Linked DNA regions of Homo sapiens: region 2 is linked to region 1. The links come from fine-mapping of genetic effects on gene expression. A gene starts in region 1. The other region holds a variant in brackets. All regions are shown on one strand. Distances are between the middles of the regions.

What was found. PIP is the estimated chance that this variant, and not a neighbour inherited with it, causes the effect.
Region 2: its variant is fine-mapped to the expression of ZNF415 in visceral fat (GTEx, PIP above 0.99). The same link has a PIP of 0.9 or more in pancreas and subcutaneous fat.

The regions. Positions count from the first base shown.
Region 1 is chr19:53,127,794-53,137,554 of GRCh38, forward strand. ZNF415 (zinc finger protein 415) reads right to left here and starts at 5,117. Exons shown (of 4, transcript NM_018355.4): 1 at 5,063-5,117. It overlaps ZNF347 (zinc finger protein 347), which reads right to left. Exons shown (of 5, transcript NM_032584.3): 5 at 7,142-9,761.
Region 2 is chr19:53,096,044-53,105,804 of GRCh38, forward strand. It overlaps ZNF160 (zinc finger protein 160), which reads right to left and starts at 7,379. Exons shown (of 6, transcript NM_001322131.2): 1 at 7,222-7,379. RefSeq lists a silencer at 7,422-7,831. The variant T/C (reference allele first, on the strand shown) is at 5,429.

The DNA of each region.
Region 1 (9,761 bases):
TTGAACCTAGGAGGTGGAGGTTGCAGTGGGCCAGGATCGCACCACTGCACTCCAGCCTGCCAACAGAGCGAGACACCGTCTCAAAAAAAAAAAAAAGAAAAAGAAAAAGAAAAAGATACTAGGGCTTTCCAAACTAATCCATGCAGTCCCATAACCACCCATAAACCCACGTCCATGTGCTACAGCCAGACCTGAGACATTCCTTTACAATTCTACTCACTCCTTGATCCCACAAGCATGCGTGGGACAGGTGTACACATCATTCACCCGGCTCATCTAGAGGCCCACCTTGCTTCCATGCCCCTATGTGACACCTCCAAGAATGCTTCTTCACTTTCCCTCATTTTTCTACTTCTCTTCCATGCATGAAGAGCACACTAGGCTGAAAGGCAAAAGGGCCTCTGGACAAAAGCAGGAATGGACACAAACTGCTATCTGCAGGACAGTGGGCCTCAAGTCTAGATTCTAGAAGTTGGCCATGCTGGAAGGAATTGCCCCCAATTTGGGGACACCATGGAATCCAGTTTAAAGGCAGGTGAAGATTGGCTGGACTGAGCTGACGGAGGATGTCCAAGAAAAAGAGAGGCCCCAGATCTCATGAGGGAGGCTGCCATTGTCCCCTTGTCTCTCCACTCACAGTCCCCTGCCAAATTCCCCCGCTGTTTAGGGAGTGCCTCCTTCATGGCCCGTTTAGCTTCTGAACTTCTCGCCACCCTTCCTGAAGGGAATCCAGGACCCCTGACTGTGAGCGCATCACCTGCTGGAAGGCAAAGCCCCTGCCCAGGATGGCCACTGGGCCCCGCTGATGTGTAGAGCGTGGAAGACCCGGGAGCTGGAGTAAGGCGGTGGGGACGCCTCGGCACTGGCTGAGGACACAGGGTCTGCGGGGCTTTTCAGGCCTCAGTGAGGCCTTCTGCTCTTACATAGACTGGAATAAATAGCCACAGGAAGTTTAGACCAATTACAGATGAAATTTCCAGAATATGAGACCATCCTCACTACCCGCCCTGTCCTTTTGGTCTTCCCTGAGGAGTCTTCAGCCCAACCCCAGCCCCAGCATCTGAACCACAACCCCGGAGCAGGTGCTGCAGTCATCCCGTGGCCCAGATGGAGACTGTGTCCTCCAATGGAGGGAGACACAAAACACTCAAAATAATCCACGCAGAAGAGTGTCCGATGTGGTGATGGATGCGGAGACAGTGAAACCTGAATAATGTGATAGAGAGTGACGGGCAGAGAGAATTTCAGATGGGGGTGGGAGGGCACGGGAGACATCTCTCAGTCTAGACCCGAAGGAGGAAAAAGGGACAGGGTCACGATCATTTAGGGACATAGGGTAAAAGCAGGGACAACGACCCGTGACAGGAAGGGTTTTGACATTTGGGAAAAGAGAAAAGCAAATGTGACTGGTGCAGAGGGAGTCATGAGATGAGGGCAAGCTCCCAGGAGGAGGCTGGACACTGGCAGGGGCCCTGGACACAGGGCTGTGGAGCCACAGTGAGGAGTTGGGCTTTTGTCCTGGGGAACACAGGAAGCTGGTGGAGGGTTCCCTGCCAGGGACTGACGTGACCTGCTTTAGATTTCTCTGTGATGTCCTCATACAGAGAAAGGCCCCGAAGATGGTCTCTGTGTCTGAGTCCCTGCTTCACATTCTTGTTTTCATTTTTAGAGGAAGAAATCCAAATAAAAATTTTAATTGCAACTGGCTAGTCCCCCCACATACAACTGCCAAACACAAATGCACACCCAATTTTGCCCCAAATTTCAGGAGTCAGTGTTGCTCACATTGAGGTTTTCTGGTCTAGTCCCTTATCTCTGTTACAGGTGGGCTCACTGAGGCTGAGAGAGGGAGTCATTTCACCAAGTTATCCTGAGAGGTCTGAGTTGAGTGAGAAGGAGGAGATGTGGCTGAATTATGATGTCACGACCTGGAAGGGCCAATGGGCTGTGTTTGCCTTTATCACATCTCCCTTAGAAAATTCCAGGACTGGCCAGGCATGTTGGCTCGTGCCTGTAATCCCAGCACTTCGAGGCTGAAGGAGGGGAGATTACTTGAGGCCAGGAGTTTGAGACCAGCCTGGCCAACATGATGAAAGCTCATCTCTATCAAAAAACACAAAAGTTAGCCGGGTGTGGTGGCCTGTGCCTGTAATCCCAGCTACTCAGGAGGCTGAGGCAGGAGAATCGCTTGAACCCGGGAGGCGGAGGTTGCAGTGAGCCGAGATTGCACCACTGTACTCCAGCCTGGGTGAGAGAGCAAGACTCCAGCTCACAAAAAAAAAAAAAAAGAAAAGAAAAAAAGAAAATTCCCAGACCCTCTTTCACATATCTGAGCAAAAGAAACTTCTTCAAGGTTTTATCACATTGGTTCCAAATGCAGCTCACAGCTTACTATTTTAACAAATTACACAAAAGAAGAAAATTGAATAATAGACTAGTTAAACTAGGTTTCCATGTTAAGGTAAAAACATCATTGACATCTTTATCAGGTACACATTGAAACAATCTAAAATTACCTACTAGTCAACAAATAATGCTTCTATTATATAATAAAGAGCAGAAAGCATGCAGACCTCTATCAAAACTGGACACAATTAATTTCAAAGGGAAAGATTTTGAAATTGTTAAGAAATATCTGATGAATTTTGGAGCTAAAAAAATTGAAAACACATTATATTTAGAAAATGCCATGAGCTGATTATAGGATGCCACCAAAGTTACTTTGGAAATAATTATATACAGAAAAATAGAAACTGAATTAATGAAGATCTATCTCAAGTTGCAAAATGAACTATACATGAGATGAAAGGGAATTAGTAAGAAAAAAAGCAAATCAATTACAAAAAGCAACAACACTTTTTTTGTTTGTTCTTTGTTTTTTTTTCAGACGCAGTCTTGCTCTGTCACCGGATCTCGGCTCTTGGCTCACTGCAACCTCCGCCTCCCGGGTTTACACAATGCTTTGCCTCAGCCTCCTGAGTAGCTGGGATTACAGATGCGTGTCACCATACCTGGCTAAGTTTTGTATTTTTAGTAGAGATGGGGTTTCACCATCTTTGCCAGGCTGGTCTTGAACTACTGACCTTGTGATTCACCCACCTCGGCCTCCCAAAGTGCTGGGATTACAGGCATGAGCCACCATGCCCAGCCTCAACACTTTTAATGTTCCTTTTGAGCAACGTTGTCCAATCCGCAGCCCAGGAAGGCTTTGAATGCAGCCCAACACAAATTCCTAAACTTCCTTAAAACATTTTGAGATTTTCTTGCAACTTTTTTTTTTTTTTTTTTTTTTTTTTTTAGCTCATCAGCTATTGTTAGTGTTAGTGTACTTTATGTGTGGCCCAAGACAATTCTTCTTCCAATGTGGCCCAGGGAAGCCAAAAGATTGGACACCCCTGCTTTAGAGAGACACTATGTAGTGACAGTCTTTCACTTTCTGCCCAGCTTTACTCTCCCACTCCCCCTTCCCCTCCCCCTGCCCCAACGCCAGGGAAGGGGAAGAGGATGACCTGTGGAATTAATGAGTCAAGTCACTTCCCTCTGCCTTAACAGGGATTGCAAGTGGAAGCTAACTTCTGATGCCATAATTATAAAATGCACCAGCCTTAATAGACAGGAGCTTTGCAATTCTCATCATCTGTGCATTTTAAACTTATAAAGACAGAAATCAACAGGTCAAAAGGTAGTCATCACATCCAGTCAGTTCACAACTCACCTGGACCTGGGGTCCCCCTCTTTCCTCATTATGGTGTGTTTCCCTCCCTCGTTCCGTACATCGCTCTCATTCTCACCTTCTTTCTCTAGCTCTTTCCTTCCCCTTTATTTTCTCCCTAGGATTCTGCTCATTTTGAGCCCCTCTCCTCTCCTGCTGCTCCTCCCCGTCTTCCCTCTATTCTTTCTCTTCCACTTGCTCTTTCCATTCTTGCAATGTATTTAATTCCTCTTTCTTCCTAATCTTTTCATTGTCCCAGTCTCCACATATTTCTGGCTCTTTCTTCCCCATTTCAGCACTCCCTGTTAAATTCCCTCTTCCCTGTTACACACCGTTGTCCCCACTCTTTGGCACCCCCAGATCCCAGGCCTCCCCGTGCTGTGGTTCTCCCTCTGCTTCTCCTTGTCATCGGCTGCCCCCTCTTGCTGTCCCGGTACCACACTGCCCTGTCTGCCCTGGCTCCAAATCCCTTCTGCTCTCCCCCACTCTCTGTCTGAGGAGCCTCCTCCTTTGCTGCCCCTCTCCCTACCTGGCTGTCCTTCATCTCTCTGGATACTGTGCTTTTTCTCGAAATGTGTCTAGTTACTTTTCTCTCCCTGCTACTTTCTCGGCTTCTTCTTCCACTCTTACTGTCTCTGAAAATCTCTAACCATCCTCTACTTTGCCATCTGTTTATTGGTTTGCCTCATTCCTTCCTGTCTCAGGTTTTCTACTGCTCTCTCTGTCCCTCGATCCCTTTGGCCCACACATTCACAGGACGGTTTGGGGTAAGACGCCTGCATCCTGGAGGAGCGCATTTTCCACGGGGTGGAGGAGGGCAGGCAAGAACATCGGGTGTCACAGGACAGGCCCTGAGCACCTCCCCAGCGCGGGCTCAGGGGAGGCCTGGGGAGCAGCGGGGCCCGGCACGAGGAGGAGGGAGGTGGGGCGCGACAGCGCCTTCAGACAGGGGTGGGGTCTGCAGGATCCCAGGACCAGGCAGAGGACGCAAGGCTCCCCGGGACTGCGGCTGCAGCTGCGGCGCTGCGCTCCAGGGGCCGACGAGGGCAAGGCTGGGAGGCACCCAGGACGGGAATACACCTCTTGGGTGAAGACTTTAAAAAGCCCGGGGATGGGGGAGGGGGTCAGGAAAAGGTTTTAAGCGGGAGGAAGAAGCAAAAGGCCGGGGACGGGGAGCAGCCTCAAAGCGACTTCAACCCAAAGGGAAGCGACTCCGGACCCACACTGCGAGGCCTGTATTCACCTGGGGTGGAGTGTACGGGGATTTTAAGGGCCGTATCGACCCTGGACATCGGCTGTGGAAATGGGAAACAGGGAGCGCAGGTTTAATCTACACAGAGGGTCACTCACGCTCGACGCCGTCACCTTCACCCAACGCGATCCGTTTCCGGGCCTGTAGGAAACTGCGCATGCGCGGAGAGAAGAGCCCGGGCAGCCTGAAGGAATGGCTGGAGTGGGCGGGGTCTGCGCCGCTTTAAGGTAAAAAAATCAGAGTTGTGTGGGCCACTTATGGTGGAAACCAAAATGTTTTCCACTTACCAAGTTGAAAACGGTTTATGTTAAAACTATTTTGCCTGCAGGTTGGACCCGATCCTGCTAGGGAGTCTCCTGCAGCTTAGCAGTCCGGGAACTGGGATTTCGGTGGGGAATCCAAAACTAGCAGTGATTGGATCCATAAAAGTTACCAAAAAACAAAAATGAAGTGTCTGGAATCACTCCACTGGATTTCAAGACTACCAATATAGGAAAGGTAATAAAAACTGTGTGGTTTTGGGGCAATAAAAGACATATGGATTGATGCAATACAGTAAGAGAGTACAAAAATAGCCTCTACAGGTACTTCCAACTGATTTTTGACAAAGTTACCAAGGGAATTGAATGAAGAATTTTTAAAAACTGGTGAGGGGCTAACTTAATATCCACAGCAGGAAAGAAGTCATCTCTACTCAAACTTCACAACCGTACAGACATTAGTTCAACATTGACCATAGCCTAAATGTAAAATATCAAACCATAAAATGGTATCCTGTAGGAGACTGAAAGAAAAAATTACTCACAATAAAATCGTAAGAATCAAGAGCTTGTTCAAAAATTCTTAGCCATAGCAGCAAAAGCATGATTCATTAAAGAAAAAAAAAATCAACTGGTATTTACCAAATTAAAAACTTTTGGTCTGTGAAAGACCTTCAGACGATGAAAGAAAAGGTATTTGATATGGTTTGGCTCAGTGTCCCCATCAAATCTCATTTTCAAGTATAAACCTCAGGTGTTGAGGGAGGGACCTGGTGGGAGGTGACTGGATCATGGGGGTGGTTTTCCCCAAGCCGTTCTCATGATAGTGAGCTCTCAGGAGATCTCATGGTTTAAAAATCTGTGATAGTTCCTCCTTTGATCGCTCTCTCTCCTGCTGCAAGCAAGACGTGCCTTGCTTCGCCTTTGCCTTCCTCTATGATTGTAAGTTTCCTGAGGGCTCCCTAGCCATGCGGAACTGTGAGTCAATTAAACCTCTTTTGTTTATAAATTACCCAGTCTCAGGTTGTCACAGGAGGGTTTAGGCAGTGTGAAAATGGACTAATACAGTACTGAATAATAGAAAATATTTGCCTACCATATATCTGACATAAAACTGGTATGTGGAATGTATAAAGAATCCTAGAACGACTTAAAAAAAAAGCAAAATAATCAAATTAGAAAATGGATAGAACTATGAAGAGACATTTCACTGAAGCAGATATACTGAGATAAATGGGCACATAAAAAGATTTCCAACATCACCATCCATCAAATCTCAGACCTCAGCATATTCTGCTTTCTCCATGTGAACCCCTGGATGCTGTCAGAGATCATGAGAAACACAGGAGCTTCTACTGAACAGTCCAGTTGATGTGTATTAGCAACCTGTAATTGTTTTTGGAAACGAACAATGGAAACACAGATACAAAAATATTCTCAGCTCAAGAAATATGCACTTTGTCATTATTAGTGATTTTTTTTTTTTTTTGAGACAGAGTCTTGTTCTGTCACCCAGGCTGGAGTGCGGTGGTGTGATCTCAGCTTACTGTAACCTCTACCTCCCAGGCTCAAGCGATTCTCCTGCCTCAGCCTCTTGAGTAGCTTCAACCACACGCACGCGCCACCACACCCAGCTATTTTTTGTATTTTTAGTAGAGATGGGTTTTCACCATGTTGGCCAGGCTGGTCTCCAATTCCTGACCTCAGGAGATCCACCCCCCTTGGCCTCCCAAAGTGCTGGGATTACAGGGGTGAGCTACAGCGCCTGGCCACCACTAGAACTAACACCTCAGGTACTGGATGCCTCCTTCGAAAGATTGGATAATCGTTCTTACAGGATTATGTGGTAATGAGTGTCTCTGTCATTCATTTAGGTAAGATGCATACGCAATAGTGATCTATAAAATATAGACTTAATTGATCTATAAAAATATAGATTTAATACAAAGTTACCACAATCACAATGATATATGAAGATAAACCATTTAAAAATTACAAGAGATACTAACAAAATAGGTATAGATGGTGAGTAAAGGACAAAAATAACTAGCATTGTTACTGTAGCATCATCATTAAAAGCTTTGTCTTTGCAACCAGACAACATGGATTCAAATCTCGATTCTGCCTCTTACTGAAATGTGACAAGATGAGTCTTTTAAAGCAGAATATGCTGAGATCTGAGATTTGATGGATGGTGATGTTGGAAATCTTTTTATGTGCCTATTTATCTCAGTATAACTGCTTCAGTGAAATGTCTCTTCATAGTTCTACCCATTTTCTAAATATATATATATATATATATATATATATATATATATATATAGAGAGAGAGAGAGAGAGAGAGAGAGAGAAAGAGAGAGAGAGAGAGAGAGAGAGATGGAGTCCCGCTCTGTCACTGAGACTGGAGTGCAATGGTGGGAACTCGGCTAACTGCAACATCCGCCTCCCAGGCTCAAGCAATTCTCCTGCCTCAGCCTCCCGAATAGCTGGGATTACAGGCGCCCGCCATCACACCCAGCTAATTTTTGTATTTTTAGTAGAGACGGGGTTTCACCATGTTGATCAGGCTGGTCTCGAATTCCTGACCTCAGGTGATCCCCCCGCCTCGGCCTCCCAAAGTGCTGGGATTACAGGCATGAGCCACTGTGCCCAGCCTAATTTGATTATTTTGCTTATCTGTCCTAAGTTTCCTCACCTCTGAAATGAGAATATCATTAATACTTATTTCAGGAGCTGATGATTCAGTTGTTACACATAAAGCATTAATAACTGTGATTCTTACTCTAAATGTGATTGATATAAAATATATATGCAAAGATAAATCACTTATTAAAGAATATATATCAGTTTTTTAAAATGGAAACAAATCTAAGGGGAGTATATTAAATGGCAGCTGTCATTGCAAAAGTTGCACAAATATCATGTTTTGCTGTAAGATCCTCTGGCTCAGAAAAGAAATACCAGCCACAGTAGGAAGTTGAATTGCCTCCAGGGATTCAATGAGAGAAATTATCTCCTTTGCATAAATGATAATTAATATCTTGGGGACTCTCTTATTAACTGTATTTTCATTTACTTCTCCAGATGCTGGTTAACCTCCACACGCTTGATTTTCAAGCATCTGATCTTTGATAACTTCCATATTAAGAGACTTCATTTCACCATCTAGTATCCCTGTACTTTAATTGAACTAAAGATTTACAAGGACACTCCATTTTCCTATTTACAGAGAACCTAGTCTGTACCTGCCATTGTTTTACATACATTTTCATGTCACAAAATTTTATTTCTAAACAACACCCTCATTTATGTATTTTCTAAGTGTTCACTGGAGTAACACAGAGAAGAAATGCAGTAAACATATAATTTGGATTAAAATGTATGGAAGGAAAAAATCCTTAAAGTAAAAATCATATACAAAAACAAAAAGTCATTTTACTACTATTGGCTCATGGCTGTAATCCTAGCACTTTGGGAAGCTGAGGCAGGAGGAATGCTTGAGGCCAAGAGTTCAAGACCAACCTGGCCAACATAGCGAGACCCCACGTCTAAAAAGAAAAAGAAAAAAAAAAAGAAAAGAAGCTATGGAGAATATGTTACACAATACCATAAACTGAACAAGACATGAATATAACACAGCCTTTGGAAAAATGCCCTTTGGCTAAAATTGCTTGATCATATTATGTAATAAACTTTTCCACAAATTCATTTGCATTGAACTACTGTAAAAATATTTTAGGCAATTTAAACAGCATTTCACAAATATTTTCAAGAATGACGTTGTGTAATGGGCCCTATGGGTTCAGCAGAAAGGAAGAGTATTATCTACTATTATGAAGAAAGCGGAGGTCTTCCCTAACAAAGAAGTTAGAAATTTCTTTTGTTTTTTTGAGAGTCTCACTCTATTGCCCAGGCTGGAGTGCAGTGGTGAGATCTCAGCTCACTGCAACCTCCGTCTCCCGGGTTCAAGTGATTCTCCTGCCTCAGCCTCCCTGGTAGCTAGGACTACAGGAGTGCGCCACCACACCTGGCTAATTTTTGTATTTTTAGTAGAGATGGGGTTTCACCATGTTGGCCAGGCTCGTCTTGAGCTCCTGACCTAAGGTGATCCACCTGCCTCGGGCTCCCAAAGTGCTGGGATTACAGGCATGAGCCTGTAATTTCTGGCCATGCCTGGCCAGAAATCAGAAGTTGCAAGAGTAAATATTCAGTGTTGTACTACAGTCAGTTTCCATTTTGTGATTTTTGTCTTATACCACCATTTATACCTCTGCACTCCCTCTTCTTATTCTGCCCATCTGGCCAAGCTGATAATGTCCGTGTTCCCTCCTTTGGCACTAGATGGAAGTTCAAATCACGTGTGGGATCCTCACCCCAACCCACCCTTTTATTAAAGGTTATTACCATAACACCCCAAGCAAGTTATTTATCCCTGCTCTCTCAAGCCATTTTGGACCAGTTTGGGAAGTCAATCCTGCTTCTCACAGAAAGCCTCATTATGCAATACACATTTCCCTAAAACTTCATTGTTCAGCAT
Region 2 (9,761 bases), 32 kb before region 1:
CTGTCTCTACTAAAAATACAAAAAAATGACCCAGGAGTGGTGGCACATGCCTGTAGTCCCAGCTACTCCAGAGGGTGAGGCAGGAGAATTGCTTGAACTCAGGAGACAGAGGTTGCAGTGAGCTGAGATCGCACCACTGCACTCCAGCCTGGGAGACAGAACGAGACTCCGTCTCAAAATAAATAAATAACTGAATGAATGAATGAAATATTAGGCCATTTTTATGGTCTTCACTTTGGGAGACTGATGTATGCAGGGGTGGACTGCATGTTTGTCCTTGGGGTGGTCTTTTTCGTGAGAAGGGAGCTGAGCAGGACTAACTGAGGGGCAGAGCCAAGGGCCCTTCATGGAGACCACTCTGCTTACCAACCTGTGGAAGGGCAAGCGCAAGTCCACCCAGAAACACATCTGGCTGACTATGGGATCCCTGTCTGAGGCTCAGCAGACCCACGTGGCCAATAAAAGACCCTAAATTCTGCAAAAAGAAGAGTTTGTCTCTGTGCCCAGGCCCCTCCATGGAAAAAAGGTCCTGGGGTCTAAGATTTCTCACTTGGCAATGATGTTGGCTTGAATATTATTCACAGACCCAGATCCTTGGGTCTTGCGTGGGGCAAACTGACTGCAGAACTGCAGGAAGTGAGAGTCTGAACAGAGCAGCAGAAAGGCAGGCAGGAGACCTGAGGGAGGGGAGAAAGGAGAGAGACAAACAGACCAACCCGTCCTCTCCCTCAATCACCCGCCTGGGGAAGCATTAGTTTCCCATCATAGAGAGGACAACGGGGAAAGGGAGAAGCGTGTGCATAGGATGAGATGTGTGTTGGGTGGACAGAAAGACTCCTTTCCCTAAATGTGACCCCATTAGCTCACCCCATTCTATTGCACAAATTCCTGAGCGGAGGGGCACCCTGTGGGGATGAACACAGCTCTTCCTGCCTCCAGTTCCTGCGTCTCCCTGCCATGACCAGGGCTGTAACCCTCCAACTCCCTTCCCAGGGCCCCGTGGCCCCTCTGCACTGGAGAAAGGTCCATGTTCCACAGCGGGTTTCAAGGACCTTGCCCCTCAGCTCCCCAGCTGCCTTGTGACTCTGTGACTCTGTTATCTTGGAATAAACAGGGAGAGGCCACCGGCCTGGCTGCAAGAATGTGGCAGCTTTATCTTCCCAAGGACAGTCCCAGTGGAAGCCTTTGGGCCGCAGGTCAGTGTGCTGTGTTTCACTCTGATTCTTGGAGAAATCTTTCCCTTACTCTGGGACCCTGATAATCACTCCCTCTTGAGTTGCACCCACAGACGCCCCCACAACAAACCCTCCCTAATGAAAGCCATCTGCGCCTGATTCTTAGGATCCCCGTTGCCCTCTGGACTCAGACACGCTTACAAACTCCCACACTCCCCATATACTTCATAAAGATCCCACAATCCCCAGATACTTCATAAAGATCCAGAAGCCCTGTTATGAAATCTCACAAGCCCCAGTAACTCATGGAATAATATACACAAACACCCCAGGAACTCACTGACCCAGGGCAACGTATTTCCACTCATAGTGACTCCACCCCACAGGGGAATACCACTGAAACCTACCAATAAAACAGAGATGTCTCTAATGATGCAATTAGACCCCAACATCAGGAAAGGAAACACTCCAAATGATCATTTCATCTTCCAAAACACAACTGAAAGCTTATTGATCTGCAACTGAAAATACCCCGAATGCCAAAGGCAACCCAGAAAATAATCTCTGAGATTCTTCCTATCTTTCCTCTATGGGTTTCAGGATGGTTTTTGCACTTCCCAAAGCCTCCACAGAAATCACCCCGTGGAGCGGATGCTGTGGAGCAGCTCTGGGATCCACACCCTCAGGCCAAGGCGCCCATCCTCCTGCTGCTGAAGCTCCCTCTGGGCTCAGCTTAGGTCTTGGTTCTAAGTACACTTCGGGATGTTTTTCTCTGCCTGATTCCACTGCCTTCAGTCCTCTTCACTGTGATGATGAGTTTCCGAATTAAATTCCTGCATGCAAATCTCTGTGTCAGCATCTGTTTCCCAGGTAACCTGAGCTGAGACATCAGGGCATTACAAAATGATCCTGCAGCCCCACAACCACCCCAAAACCCACTTCCAGGTGCTACAGCCAGACCTGAGACTTCTTTCCAAGTGTGCCACACATCCCGTGAGCCCACAGTCACCTGTGGGCCAGGTGCATGCAGCATTCATCCAGCTCCTCTAGAGGCTCAGCATTGCTTCCACGCCTCACTCCACACCTCTAAGGACTTCTTCACCTGTCCCCATTTTTCTACTTCTCTTCCAGCCTGAGAAGCACACTGGATTGAAAGGCCTCTGGACACAAGCGATGCGGCAGGAATGGACACAAACTGCTATCTGCAGGACAGTGGGCCTCAAGTCTAGATTCTAGAAGTTGGCCATGCTGGAAGGAATTGCCCCCAATTTGGGGACACCATGGAATCCAGTTTAAAGGCAGGTGAAGATTGGCCGGATTGAGCTGGCGGAGGATGTCCAAGAAAAAGAGAGGCCCCAGATCTCATGAGGGAGGCTGCCATTGTCCCCTTGTCTCTCCACTCACAGTCCCCTGCAAAATTCCCCCGCTGTTTAGGGAGTGCCTCCTTCATGGCCCACTTAGCTTCTGAACTTCTCGCCACCCTTCCTGAAGGGAATCCAGGACCCCTGACTGCGAGCGCATCACCTGCTGGAAGGCAAAGCCCCTGCCCAGGATGGCCACCGGGCCCCGGTGATGTGTAGAGCGCGGAAGACCCGGGAGCTGGAGTAAGGCGGTGGGGACGCCTCGGCACTGGCTGAGGACACAGGGTCTGCGGGGCTTTTCAGGCCTCAGTGAGGCCTTCTGCTCTTACATAGACTGGAATAAATAGCCACAGGAAGTTTAGACCAATTACGGATGAAATTTCCAGAATATGAGACCATCCTCACTACCCGCCCTATCCTTTTGGTCTTCCCTGAGGACTCCTCAGCCCGACCCCAGCCCCAGCATCTGAACCACAACCCCAGAGCAGGTGCTGCAGTCGTCCCGTGGCCAAGATGGAGACACAAAACACTCAAAATAATCCATGCAGAAGAGTGTCCGATGTGGTGATGGATGCGGAGACAGTGAAACCTGAGTAACGTGGTAGAGACTGACAGGCAGAGAGAATTTCAGATGGGGGTGCAAGAGGGTGGAAGACAGCTCTGAGGCTAGACCCGAAGGAGAAGAAAGGGACAGAGCTGTGATGATTTGGGGACATAGGGTAAGAGGAGGGACAAAGACTGAGACAGGAAAGGTTTTGATGTTTGGGAAAAGAGAAAAACAAATGTGACTAGGGCAGAGGGAGTCATGAGATGAGGGCAAGCTCCCAGGAGGAGGCTGGACACTGGCAGGGGCCCTGGACGCAGGGCTGTGGAGCCACAGTGAGGAGTTGGGCTTTTGTCCTGGGGAACACGGGAAGCCGGTGGAGGGTTCCCTACCAGGGACTGACATGACTGCTTTAGATTTAGCCATAACTCTAATGCAGAGAAAGGCCTCCAAAGATGGTCTCTCTGCCTCTGAGTCTACACCCCAGCTTCCATCCTTGTGGTTTTGGTTTTGTTTTGTTTTAAATTTTAAAGGACTGAGTCCCATTTAAATTTTTAATTGCAGTGGGCACTCCCCAATTCCTAGAAGAACTGCAAAACACAGATGTACACCCAATTCTGCCAAACATTAAGGGGATTAGTATTGCCCAGACTGAGGTATATTGACTGAGTCCCTCACCTTCACGTTGCAGGTGGATTTACTGAGGGCTAGACGGGGAGATGTTTCACTAAGTCATCCAAGTTGAATTAGAAGATGTATCTGACTCTATGACGGCCTCGAAGGGCTAATGGGCAACACTAGACTTTCTCACGCCTCCCCTGGAAAATTCCAGGATCTTCTTTCACATACCTGGGCAAAAGAAACTTCCCTTTCATGGCTTTATCACATTGATCCCAAACATTTAATTCCTCTTTTCCAGAAAAACACAACATACTAATGAAACGCAGAACTGTGAAAACATGGCTATTGGTGTTGAAAACAGTGAAAGACTGTCAGCTATAGAGATGAGCTCTCTCAGCAAATTTTTTCATGAACACATAAGCTCTGCTGGAATAAGGTTTTGAGTCAATCCAGCCCATCTTTCCACATTTACAGAAAATAGAACTGACAAAAGGGACTTGAGGGGGACATCTGCTTAGTAGTTCACAGGTCACTATTTTAAGAGATGACATAAGGGAAGAAAACTGACTAGTAACAAATAAGTTGGCCGAGCGTGGTGGCTCACGCCTGTAATCCCAGCACTTTGGGAGGCTGAGGCGGGTGGATCACGAGGTCAGGAGATCGAGACCATCCTGGCTACCATGGTGAAACCCCATCTCTACTAAAAATACAAAAAATTTGCCGGGCGTGGTGGCGGCTGCCTGTAGTCCCAACTACTTGGGAGGCTGAGGCAGGAGAATGGCATGAACCTGGGAGGCGGAGCTTGCAGTGAGCCGAGATTGCACCACTGCACTCCAGCCTGGGCGACAGAGCGAGACTCCGTCTCCAAAAAAAAATTAGTTAATAGGTTCTTATGTTAACGTTAAAAAAAAAAGCGTCACTGATATCTTTACCAAATACACATTCATACCATCTAAAATTCCTACTGATGGCCGGCGTAGTGGCTCACGCCTGTAATCCCAGCACTTTGGGAGGGATCACTTGAGATCAGGAGTTTAAGACCAGCCTGGCCAATATAATGAAACCCTATCTCTACTAAAAATACGAAAATTAGCCAGGTGTGGTGGCAGGTGCCTGTAATCCCAGCTACTTGGGAGGCTGAGGCAGGAGAATCACTTGAACCTGGGAGGTGGAGGTGGCAGTGAGCCAAGGTCACACGAGTGCACTACAGCCTGGGCATCAGAGTACCTCCATCTCAAAAAAAATAAATAAGGGCCAGGAGCGGTGGCTCACGCCTGTAATCCCAGAAATTTGGGAGGCCGAGACAGGTGGATCACTTGAGGTCAGGAGGTCAAGACCAGCCTAGCCAACATGGTGAAATCCCGTCTCTACTAAAAATACAAAAAATTAGCCAGGCGTGGTGGCACACACCTGTAATCCCAGCTAGTTGGAAGGCTGAGGCAGGAGAATCACTTGAACCCAGGAGACAGAGGTTGCAGTGAGCTGAGATCACGCCACTGCCCTCCAGCCTGGGTGAAAGAGCGAGACTGTCTCAAAAATAAATAAATAAATAAATAAAAATGAATAAAGTTACCTACTGACTACCAAAGAGTATTTCCAATATATGATAAAGAGTAGAAAGCATGCAGACCTCAATCTGAACTCAACACAATTAACTTCAAATGGAAACCATTTTGAAAATATATATATTATTTAATATGTATATGATATATTAACTATATATGGAA[T/C]TCTACAAAGGGAAAAAATTGAAAATATATCACATTTAGAAAAGAATGACATGAGCCAATACAGGATTCCACAAAAGCTTACTTCAGCAATAATTACATATAGAAAAAGAGACTGAATTAGATAAGCTTCATCTCAACCTTCAGCATGAACTGTGAGATGAAAGGTAAATACAAGGCACCAGGCAGTGACACAGCCAGTCACTCCTTGCCTCTCTTCACTGCCCCCACCCTACCCCATCCTCGGAAACAGGAAGAGGGAGACCCATAACTGAATGAGGCAAGTCACTGCCCAATGGCTAAACAGCATGGGCAAATGAAAGCTAGCCTCTTATGCCATAATTGTAAAATGCACAAGCCTTTTACACAGAGCTTTGTAATTCTCATCCTTATATGTAGAATTTAAACAATTAGATTACAATTTAAATGTAACACATTATAAATAGAGAAATCAAATTGTCATATCCAATCTCAACTCACCTCTCACCTGGCCCCAGGGCGCCCCTCTTTCTTTATAACTATGTGTTCCTCTCCCCCATTTTGTGCCTCTCACTTTCACCTTGTCTCTCCAGCCTTTTTCCCCTTTTATCTTCCCCCTAGGATTCTGACGATGTTGTGCCTCTTTTTTCTTCTGCTGTTTCTCCCTTCTTTGTTTTTTCCCCTTATATCTGTTCTACTCCATTCTTCCAATTTGTTTCACCTCTTGTGGCGTTTTCTTTCCAATCTTTTCATCGTCCCAATCTCCATCTATTTCTGCCTCTTTCTTACCCCATCTCCGCGCCTCCTCTGCTCTCCCTGTTAAATCCCCTCTTCCCTGTTACACCCGCTTATCCCCACTCTCTGGCACTCCCAGATCCCAGGCCTCCCTGTGTTGTGGTGCTCCCTCTGCTCGCCTTGTCACCAGCTGTCCCCTCCAGCTGTCCCAGCACCACGCAGCTCTGTCTGCCCTCGGCCAAATCCTTTCTCCTCTCCCCCACTCTCTGTCTGAGGAGGCTCCTTCTTTGCTGTCCCTCTCCTTATCTTGTTGTCCTGCATCTCGGGACATCGAGCTTTTCTCTACATTTCGCCAATTGCTTTTCTGCCCCTGCTACTTTCTTGACTGCTTCTTTCACTCTGTCGCTGCAAATCTCTCACCCATCCTCCACTTTGCCATCTGTTTATGGGTCTCCCTCATTTTTCTTTTCTCTTTCTTGGTTTTTCCATCTCCTCTCAGTGGCTCTTTGTCTCTCTTTCTCCTGATTCCCTTGGGCCACACATTCACTGGAGGGTTTGTAGTAAGATGTCTGCATGTTGGAGGAGTACATTTTCCAGGGGGTGGAGCTGGGCAGGCAAAAACACCGGGTGTCACAGGACGGGCCCCGGGCACCTCCCCAACGAGGGCTCAAGGGAAGCGGTGACTGCGAAGGGGAGGCCTGGGGAGCAGCAGGGCCCGGCACGAGGAGGAGGGAGGTGGGGGGCGACGGCGCCTTAGGACAGGGGTGGGATGTGCAGGATCCCAGGACCAGGCGGAGGCGCGGCCTCCCCGGGACTGGGTCGGCGGCGCTGCGCTCCAGGGGCCGACGAGAGCGAGGCTGGGAGGCGCCCAGGGCAGGCGGTGAGGACTTTAAGCGATGCGGGGCGGGAGGAGGAGTCAGTAAAGGATTTTAAGCAGGAAAATCCTGCTTAAACGTTTAAAAAACCGGGAAAGGCCGTGTTTACTTGGCCCAAGGCAGAAAGACCGGGGGCAGGGACCAGCCTCAGGGCGACTTTAACCCAAAAGGAAGCGTCTCCGGGCCCACACAGCAAGGCCTATTTACCTGAGGTGGAGGGTGCGGTGCGGAGATTTTAAGTCCGTAGCGACCCCCGGGCATCGGGTGTGCGAATGGGGGACGGCGAGGCGCAGGTTGAGTCTACACAGAGGAACACTCATACGCCATGGTGTGATGCTTGCTCCGCACGATCCACTTCCGGGTCTGTGGGCAACTGCGCGAAGGAAAGCGACCGAGCGGCCCGGGGCGGGGTCCGAGATGGGCGGAACCGGAAAAGGGCGGGGCGTTGAGAGAGCCGGGCTGAAGCAGGGGCCGCCAGGCAGGGACCCCAGGGAAGGAACGGGGAGGAGCCACCGGGGAGGGGTGGGGAGTGACCAAGTGGAGGGACCCGGGGGCGGGCCGGGGAGGAGCCGCCGGGGAAGGGCGGGGAGGAACCGCGGGAAGGGACCGCGGGGGAGGAAGGCGAAGGGACCGCGGGGGAGGGAGGCAGAGGGACCGCCAGGAAGGGACCCGGGGGAGAGGCGGGGCTGGACGGGACACGTTAGGGTCTGCGATTTCGTGTGATGCCCACAGCCCAGCGCCCAGAGCCATCTGTAGTGTCTTGTGGAACGGCGTAGATGTTTCAAACGGTTTCAAGTTAAAAGCACAGTTGTGTAGGTTATTTTGGAAACCAAACTGCTTTCCTCTTAGAATGGAGGCGGTTTATGTTGAAAGCATTTTTTGCTAGCGCGTTTACCCAGTAATGTTATTGACGCTGAAGCAGCCCAGGAGTCTGGGAACATGGGTTGACACGGAGCGGTGATGGCATGCTGGAAAAGTTTCTGCGATTAAAATTAAGTAATTTAAAAGCCCTGAAATTAGCAGTAACTTTTAAAAAATAGATATAAATTGCATTGTCCTTTTTTATACTTACTATTCTATTCCGTGCGAGATGACAACCTCAAACGCCTATACTTTTTTTTTTTTTTTTTGAGCCGGAGTCACGCTCTGTCGTCCAGGCTGGGGTGCAGTGGCATGATCTCTGCTCACTGCAACCTCGGCCTCCCGGGTTCAAGCAATGCTCCTGCCTCAGCCTCCCGAGTAGCTAGGATTACAGGCGCCCGCCACCACGTTCTTTAGCGGAGATGAAGTTTCACCATGTTGCCTAGGCTGGTCTCGAATTCCTGACCTCAAGTGATCCACCCGCCTCAGCCTCCCAAAGTGCTGGGATTACAGGCGTGAGCCACCATACCTGGCCCCAGGAACTACTTTCACCTACTGAATATATATTAAGTCCTTTGCCACAAAAAGATAATATACATAATTTATCTCAGAACAATTAAGATATTTACCACTGTAAATGACAAATTCAGACTTAGAGAAGGAAGATTTTATTCAAAAGGACTATTGCAATAGAGAGAATGTTCCAATCACAAGATCTGAAAATGTCCAAGAGACACAAACTAAAAAGCTTTTTTTTCTTTTTTTCATATATGGAGGAGTAAACAAGGCTAGAAAGCACAAGCACAAGTTATGAGGCTGTGGATGAGCACTTGGCATGACTACAGTTATTCAGGGAAAGTTTGTTATGTTATGTTATGTTATGTTAAAAATGTTACATATTTCTTGGAGAGAGTCTTGCTCTGTCACCCAGGCTGGAGTGCAGTGGCGTCATCTCTGCTCACTGCAACTTTTCATCTACCAGGCTCAGGCAATCCTCCCACCTCAATCTCCCCAGTAGCTGGGACTACAAGCACACGTCACCATGCCTAGTTAATTTTTGTACTTTTTGTAGAGACGGGGTTTCGCCATGTTGCTCAGGCTAGACTCGAACTCCTGAGCTCGAGGGATCCCCCACACCTTGGCCTCCCAAAGTGCTGGGATCACAGGCGTGAGCCACCGTGCCCGGTCTATTTATTTTTTGAGAGAGCATCTTGCTCTGTTGCCCAGGCTAGAGTGCAGTGTCAAGACCATAGCTCACTGCAGCCTTCAACTCTGGAATCAAGTGATCCTCCTACCTCAGTCTCCCAAGTGGCTGGGACTACGGGTTTGCACCGCCACACTCCACTAATTTTTTTACTTTTTGCAAAGGCGGATTCTCACTATGTTGCCCAGGCAAGTCTTGAACTTCTAGCCTCAACTGATCCTCCCGCCCTGATCTCCCAAAGTGTTGGGATTACAAATGTGAGCCTGGCTCATCATGGAATTCAAGACCAGTTTGGGCAACATAGCAAGACTCCCATCTCTACAGAAAATTTTTAAAAATTAGCTGGGCATGGTGGCACACACCTGTAGTCCCAGCTACTCAGGAAGATTGCTTGAGCCCAGGAGTTCGAGGCAGCAGTTAGCTATGATCCTGACACTGCACTCCAGTCTGGGCAACAGAGTGAGAACCTGTCTTTCAAAAAAAAAAAAAAAAGCCTACTCTTGGGAGGGGCTGTTGGCTGTTGTTAAGGAAAAGTTGTTCCAAATTACACTGACAAAGAATGGTTCAGAGGGTTGGGCATGGTGGCTCACGCCTGCAATCCTTGCACTTTGGGAAGCTGAGGCGAGTGGATCACATGAGGTCAGGAGTTCGAGACCAGCCTGGTCAACATGGCGAAAACCCA